Linked DNA regions of Homo sapiens. The protein of the gene in region 2 purifies or fractionates together with the protein of the main gene of each other region. This does not show direct contact. Each region holds a gene or a part of one and is shown on either strand. Other genes may lie near its edges.

Evidence for each region.
Region 1: the proteins of CCDC74A (region 2) and RGPD8 purify together in Homo sapiens (affinity purification with mass spectrometry; one large-scale study listed by BioGRID and IntAct). This does not show direct contact.

What each region holds. Positions count from the first base shown.
Region 1 is NC_000002.12:112,399,141-112,402,955, reverse strand, and holds part of RGPD8 (RANBP2-like and GRIP domain-containing protein 8), read left to right. Parts: intron 1-1,107; coding exon 1,108-1,289; intron 1,290-1,372; coding exon 1,373-1,548; intron 1,549-1,715; coding exon 1,716-1,839; intron 1,840-2,761; coding exon 2,762-2,920; intron 2,921-3,186; coding exon 3,187-3,324; intron 3,325-3,586; coding exon 3,587-3,733; intron 3,734-3,815.
Region 2 is NC_000002.12:131,526,343-131,530,257, reverse strand, and holds the start of CCDC74A (coiled-coil domain-containing protein 74A), read right to left. Parts: upstream 2,371-3,915; 5' UTR 2,288-2,370; coding exon 2,038-2,287; coding exon of another isoform or gene 1,912-2,037; intron 612-1,911; coding exon 567-611; intron 561-566; exon of another isoform or gene 281-560; coding exon of another isoform or gene 1-280.

The DNA.
Region 1 (3,815 bases), about 19 Mb from region 2:
CTTCGTCTCAAAAACAAAAAGTGTTGGAATTATAGGCATGAGCCACTGCATCTGGCCATATTTTTCATCTAAATGGTTGTTTATGTATGATTTATCTTGCTTCCTTCATGAATTCTCTCCCATAGTCTGTGTATTAAAACTATAAATATCACTTTTATTGGCAATATAATCTTTTTTATGAAGTAGTCATAATTTGCTTGCTACTTTCTGTTATTGGGCATCCAAGTTTTCTCAACTTTTCCACTGTTAATAATCATACTCTGATAAAAACTTCAACAAAAAGTGTCTTCATTGCAAGTTATTTCCATAGAGATACCTAAAAACAGAATTACTGAGACAAAGGACATGAACATCTTTAAGTCTTGCAAATTGCCAAAATGACAGAAAGATTATACCTCTTCATGCTTCCAGAAGCGCATAACCTTTTCTTTTCTTTTCTTTTCTTTTCTTTTCTTTTCTTGTTTTTGAGACAGAGTCTCGCTCTGTCACCCAGGCTGGAGCGCAGTGGCGCAATCTCGGCTGCCAGGTTCAAGCAATTGTCTTGCCTCGGCCTCCCAAGTAGCTGGGACTATAGGCATGTGACACCGTGCTCGGCTAATTTTTTGTATTTTTAGTAGAGACGGAGTTTCACCATGCTGGCCAGGCTGGTCTCGAACTCCTGACTGCGCATAACATTTTCAATATTGACTTTCTTGTAGAAAAACAGATTTCTTTACTGTACCGATGGATTAATATAGTGGTGTTCCATTGCTTTAATGACTTAAAGCAAAACCCATTGTTTTGGGGTTTCTTATTAGGTTAGGTGTTCTTTATTTGGCTTTTGTCAGTTGATTTTGGTTTATTGAGTTCTAGTCAGTGTCATTTTTTAAGATGGACTTAAACATTCTTCATCACTACTATTTTTATTAAAATTTCTAGAAATAATCAAGTGAGAATGCATTTAATAAGAACATGAGATTTTGCCTAACATAGAATTCCCTCCAGCTTTGATATAGAAAAGCAGTTATATAATTAAGATATATATAATGTGAATTGTTTATGTTGGCAAAACTAATGGCACAAAGAAAAATTTCAAACCCTTAAGCCAATTTTTAAATTTTATTTCAGGTGCTATTCGAGCACATAATGGTAGTCTTCAGCATCTTACTTGGCTTGGCTTACAGTGGAATTCATTGCCTGCTTTACCTGGAATCCGAAAATGGCTAAAACAGCTTTTCCATCGTTTGCCCCATGAAACCTCAAGGCTTGAAACAAATGCGCCTGAATCAATATGTATTTTAGATCTTGAAGTAAGCAAAGATTTTAACAAATTAAATATTCTGAATTTTGTTTAATTTTTTTTTCTAACTTAACTTTTCCTTAAATGAAACAGGTATTTCTCCTTGGAGTAGTATATACCAGCCACTTACAATTAAAGGAGAAATGTAATTCTCACCATAGCTCCTATCAGCCGTTATGCCTGCCCTTTCCTGTGTGTAAACAGCTTTGTACAGAAAGACAAAAATCTTGGTGGGATGCGGTTTGTACTCTGATTCACAGAAAAGCAGTGTAAGTAGTAAAACAAAAATATTGCTTTCACTTAGTGCGTAGGTTTTACCGGGGATTTAATCCTCGTGTGAAGATTTAATTTGTCATGTGACCCATTAACATATATGTATGTAAGCGCTGAACTGTGTATTTAGAAAGCAATTTTAGTAAATTGAACTATTTTTTAGACCTGGAAACTTGGCAAAATTGAGACTTCTAGTTCAGCATGAAATAAACACTCTAAGAGCCCAGGAAAAACATGGCCTTCAACCTGCTCTGCTTGTACATTGGGCAAAATACCTTCAGAAAACGGTGAGTTTTAAAGTATAAGCATTTTTAATGAACATTACCTTAATTTTTTAAAATCATGAACTTTTTATTGAAAGTTTTTTTGTTCTGAAAACAGCAGCTTGGTCATATTATGACAGATGTGTTTTTTATTGCTGCAAAATAGTTAATGTAGTTAAATATAAGCACTTAGAGGAGCAATGCCTGGCACACAGTGAATGTTACATATTAGCTGAGCTGTTACTGTTATTCCTTAATAATTAAGTTCTGATAATTATTCAGCCTGAAAATTAAAAAAAAAATTAGCACAAGGCTTTGTAGGTAAGACCATTATAGATCTTTCTAAATATTTAAGGTGTGTTTTGTGTCACCATTAGGTGTAGATGGTCAGCCTTTTGAACAAACTGACACTACAGAAGAGGCAGGTTTCAGCTATCTAAAAAGGACAACTGTTAAAAAGTAGTTTGGATTGCTACGTTAGAGTGGTATCATTAGAAGCATTTAAAAGTTGAGTGTAGAGGCCGGGTGCGGTGGCTCACACCTGTAATCCCAGCACGTTAGGAGGCCGAGGCGGGCAGATCACAAGGTCAGGAGGTCGAGATCATTCCTGGCTAACACGGTGAAACCCCGTCTCTGCTAAAAATACAAAAAAAAACTCTACTAAAACTACAAAATTAGCCAGACATGGTGGCAGGTGCCTGTAATCCCAGCTACTTGGGAAGCTGAGGCAGGAGAATTGCTTGAACCTGCACGGCAGAGGTTGCAGTGAGTTCACTGGTATTAAGGTGGTTTAGTTATTACAGTATTTGGAAGTTGAACAAATGACTATTGAGGTACCATTTGGTTTTGACTTGAAATTTTAGCCAGTTCTTACAACTTGTAAATGAACTTTAGATCTAATCATGCGTGTTCCTTAAAGTTGTGTGCTTTTAACTTTCTTTTTTAGGGCAGCGGTCTTAATTCTTTTTATGGTCAACTAGAATACATAGGGAGAAGTGTTCATTATTGGAAGAAAGTTTTGCCATTGTTGAAGATAATAAAGAAGAACAGTATTCCTGAACCTATTGATCCTCTGTTTAAACATTTTCATAGTGTAGACATTCAGGTAACAGAGTTCCTTTATGAATTTATTGGAGATGGGAATTTCCAGTTTATAAACAAAGACGTGGAGCTATAAACTGCTTAAATTAATTGCCTTGTTATTTAACGGTAATCTTGTTTTCTAAATTCACTAGCTCTCACAGATAAGATATGACAGAGAAGAGTAATGAGATGTTTGTCTCTTAAGATCATATAAAATCTTTGGAAAATCATTTGGGTTTTATATTCTGAGTATAAACAATTTGACTAAAAACTATTCTATGTGTTTAGGCATCAGAAATTGTTGAATATGAAGAAGACGCACACATAACTTTTGCTATATTGGATGCAGTAAATGGAAATATAGAAGATGCTGTGACTGCTTTTGAATCTATAAAAAGTGTTGTTTCTTATTGGAATCTTGCACTGGTAAGTAGATGCAGTACTTGAGCTAAAAGTTGTATTTATTTATTTATTATTTTTTTTAAAAGACGGGGTTTCTCTGTTGGCCAGGCTAGAGTGCAGTGGCACAATCTTGGCTCACTGCAACCTCTGCTTCCCAGGCTCAAGCGATTCTTGTGCCTCAGCTCCCGAGTTGCTGGGATTACAGGCATGAGCCACCATGCGTGGCCAAGCTGAAAGTTTTTTGTTTTAAAAAGCTAATGATTTCATGAAAGCACTATTTGTATAGATTTTTCACAGGAAGGCAGAAGACATTGAAAATGATGCCCTTTCTCCTGAAGAACAAGAAGAATGCAGAAATTATCTGACAAAGACCAGGGACTACCTAATAAAGATTATAGATGACGGTGATTCAAATCTTTCAGTGGTCAAGAAAGTAAGTAGCAGGTTGTTGTATGTACGTTCTTACTGATAACCCACTGGTCAGTGTTTTTGCGTTGGTCTTATATTTTGGTAAT
Region 2 (3,915 bases):
ACCACAGCCCAGGATCCTGGGCTGGGTGGGGGCCGCTGTCAGGATGGGGAAGTGCCTTGGACAAGTGGCAAGGAAACAGGACTCTGCTTCCTCCCTTTGTCCCCATGGTTGCTGCCCAGATGGCAGGAAGGGATCCCTGGATGGAGTGTGTCCAGAGCCCCTGGGCCCCCAGCATGTGAGGACTCAGAGCCATAGGGCTGGAAATCCTGGGCCTGGCCACAGCAGCAATCTGAGGCAAAGATCTAGCAGGGCAGGGGCTGTCCCAGGGGTTCCTTCCCATTTCAGCTCTACTTGGAGGAGGGAGGTCTGGGGAGCACCCTGTGCCCACCTCCCCACTGCAATGACCTCAGGCCCTGGGCTTCCCGAGAGCAGCACGTGCTGTGCTTGGCTGCATAACATCGTCCAGCCACGGCTAGAGGTAGCGGCATCTGTCCAGGTCCCCCAGAACCTGTACCCACTGGGTTGGCATACAGGGGCCAGTGCAGCCAGGTGGGCAAGGACAGTCTGGAGGGGCTCCCCTGGGTGGCAAGAGCATCCCATCAGTCACTGAAGGGCCCAGTTCTCACCTTTCTTCTGTGATGTCTGATTCATTATGAGCTTGTAATGGAGATCTGAAAGCAAGCACACGCTCTCCTCAGCACTTGTGAAACCACAGCTATTCTGAGAGAAGAAGCCTGGCCTGTCCTCTCCTGGCTGCTGAGCCCAAAAGTCCTGCCCCCCCACTGGCTGATTGGGCCCTGCCCCATGGATCCCGCTCTCCACCACGCCTTCGTCGTGGGTGTCAGGCCAGGAATGGCCCTGCCTGTTCCCTAGGCAGAGCCCACCGGGCATATCGGCCTCATCCATCTGAGATGACTGGAGGGCATCCACACTGCCCAGGCAGGGCCTGGGCTTTAGGGGTACAGAGGTGAACTCCGGAACCCCTGGCTATGGCAGTGTCATGATCCCGTGGGGATCAGGGACTGCGGGGGAGGCTCAAGAAGACATTAGGAACTGGGCGTCCTGAGGCTCAAGAAGACATGGGGAAGCGGGGTCCTGACAAAACAGACGCCTGGTGATGGGATACTCGGCACTCAGGTAAGGCAGCACCAGGGAACGGGGCGGGAGAGGAGGCCGCGGGCACTGGTGCCCTTGCTGGAGCCCTCCTGAAGCAAGATCGAGGAGCGGAGCCACATCCCACATCCTGGCGGGCCCTCCTTCTGCTCGGGGCAGGAGGGGTGGGGGAGGAGGGAGGGAGAAAGGGGGGCGTGGGGGTGAGGAGCAGCTAAGGGTGCAGTTGGGAAGGCCCCGCCGGAGGACAGCATGGGCACAGGCGAAGCGGGGACGGGGTGGGGGGCGGGGGAATGCCTGCTCCTGATCCGATGTGTTTAGCTGGAAGAAATTCATTGAGCTGCGCACTCGCACTTGGGCACGTTTCCCTGTATAAAGTTTTTGTTTTTGTTTTTTTGAGACGGAGTCTCGCTCTGTCACCGAGGCTGGAGTGCAGTCGCAAGATCTCGGCTCACTGCAAGCTCCGCCTCCCGGGTTCACGCCATTCTCCTGCTTCAGCCTCCCGAGTAGCTGGGACTACAGACGCCCACCACCACGCCTAGCTAATTGTTTTGTATTTTTAGTAGAGACGAGATTTCACCGTGTTAGCCAGGATGGTCTCGATCTCCTGACCTCGTGATCCGCCCGTCTCGGCCTCCCAAAGTGCTGGAATTACAGGCGTGAGCCGCCGCGCCCGGGCCCCTCTATAAAGTTTTTAACAGAGGTGTGTCTGACCCTGCTTGGAGAGGAGAGGATTGGCGGAGTCAGCATCTGAAATGCTGCTGCCCTACGAGACAGGCAGACAGGGTCGGCACTGCCCGGGGGCCACGCGGGTCTCCCTCTGGGAGGAGGGGACAGCTCAGCGTGGCAGGGCGGGCTTACCGTCCTGTGTTCCCCCTGAGCCCAGGCGTGTGCTGGAGTTGATGGCTGTGTTTCTGTGCTGCGGGAGCGGCAGTGTTGAGTGTGCCTGGGGAGGCAGGGCCGGCCTAGGGCCCCGCGCCGGCTCACCCTTGTTTTCCCGCTTCAGATGCTCGATCTCCTCATGGAGCTTGGCCAGCATCTCCGAGTGCTGCTGCTGCAGGAACTGCAGGCTTTTCTCCAGGTCCAGGTTCCGTTTCTGCGGGTCGCTCTGCCTGAGCTGCGGGCTCTGCGGCCTCAAGGACTGGACGCCCACAGAGGGGCGCTGGCGCCGGCGCCGAGAGCCCGGGGTCGGCGAGCTGGGGGGCCGCGTCCCAGCCGCCACCCCCGCACCGCTCATATCGCCATCGCCAGGTACTCTCCCGCTGCCACTGCACCCCGGCTCAGTGGCCAGGCCGCCCTAGCCTGGCGCCCCGTCACCATGGAAACCGGGCGACGGAAGGCGCGAGGCGGTTGGCGGGGGCGGGGCCTGTCGCTGGCTCTTCCTGGGTGAGTAGTGATTTACAAGGCATCCAGGGCTGGGCGCCGGGGCTCACGCCTGTAATCCCCGAAGTTTGGGAGGCCGAGGCGGACGGATCATTTGAGGTCAGGAGTTCGTGACCAGCCTGACCAACATGGCGAAACCCCAACTCTACTAAAAATACAAAATGTAGCCGGGTGTAGTGGCGGGAGCCAGTAATCCCAGCTACTCTGGAGGCTGAGGCAGGAGAATAGCTTGAACCGGGAGGCAGAGGTTGCAGTGAGTCGAGATCGCACCGCTGCACTCCAATCTGGACGACAGAGACTCTGTCTAAAAAAATAATAATAAAAGGCATCCAGGCATCCTTTCCAGCCTGAATGGAAAGTGAGACCCCGTCTCTAAAAAATTAAAAGAAAAAAAACCCGGGCATGGTGTCTTGCGCCTGTAGTCCCAACTGCTCGGGAGGCTAAGGCGGGAGGATTGCTGGAACCCCAGAGGTCGAGGCTGCAGTGAGCTATGATGGCACCACTGAACTCCAGCCTAAGTGACAGAGTGAGATGCTGCCTAAAAATAAGAGGCTGGGCGCGGTGGCTCACACCTGTAATCCCAGCTACTCCGGAGGCTGAGGCAGGAGAATCACTTGAACCCAGGAGGTGGAGGTTGCAGTGAGCCAAGATCGCGCCATTGCACTCCAGCCTGGGTGACAGGGTGAGACTGTGTCTCAAAAAATAAATAAATAAATAAATAAATTTAAAAATAATAAAAATAAAAAGAAGTCTTATTTTTTTTACAAGGCCTGCCCTCAAAAAAAAAAAAAAAATCACAGCCAGGCCAATCATAATTTTGCCAGATACCAGCAAACCTGGAGGAAGGGAACATAGCTAACCCCAGCCTGCTCTGGCTCTCCTTTCCCCACATCTTACTGCCACATCAGCGGGGCTCCTGTATAATAACAGGGGATACAAGTGAAAGAACTGCTCATCTCAGAGCTTATTCAAGAAATCTCTAGGAAACCGTAAAGGCAACAGGGAGACAAAAACTAAGACACTAGAGGAGGTTTAAGCCTCTGACACCTCCAGTTAACAAACAGAACACATGGCGCAACCCCTAACCAGACCAACATAAAACTTCACACAGAAAGTCCATTTACTGGTTGAGCACGACCAGCCCTCAACAAAAACTTGCAAGGCATAATAAAAAACAACACAGTTTGAAGACACAGCAAACATCAGAGCCAGACTTAAATATGGCAGAGATGTTGGAATTATCAGACCAAGAAATGGAATACAACTATGATTAATATGCTAAGGGCTCTAATGGAAAAAGTGGACAACATGAGATTACAGACTGATAATGGGAACAGAGAAGTAGACATTCTAAGAAATAATCTAAAGAAAATGTGAAGGCCAGGCAGGGTGGCTCATGTCTGTAATCCCAGCACTTTGGGAGGCCAAGTTGGGCAGATCATTTGAGGTCAGGAGTTCAAGACCAGCCTGGCCAACATGGTG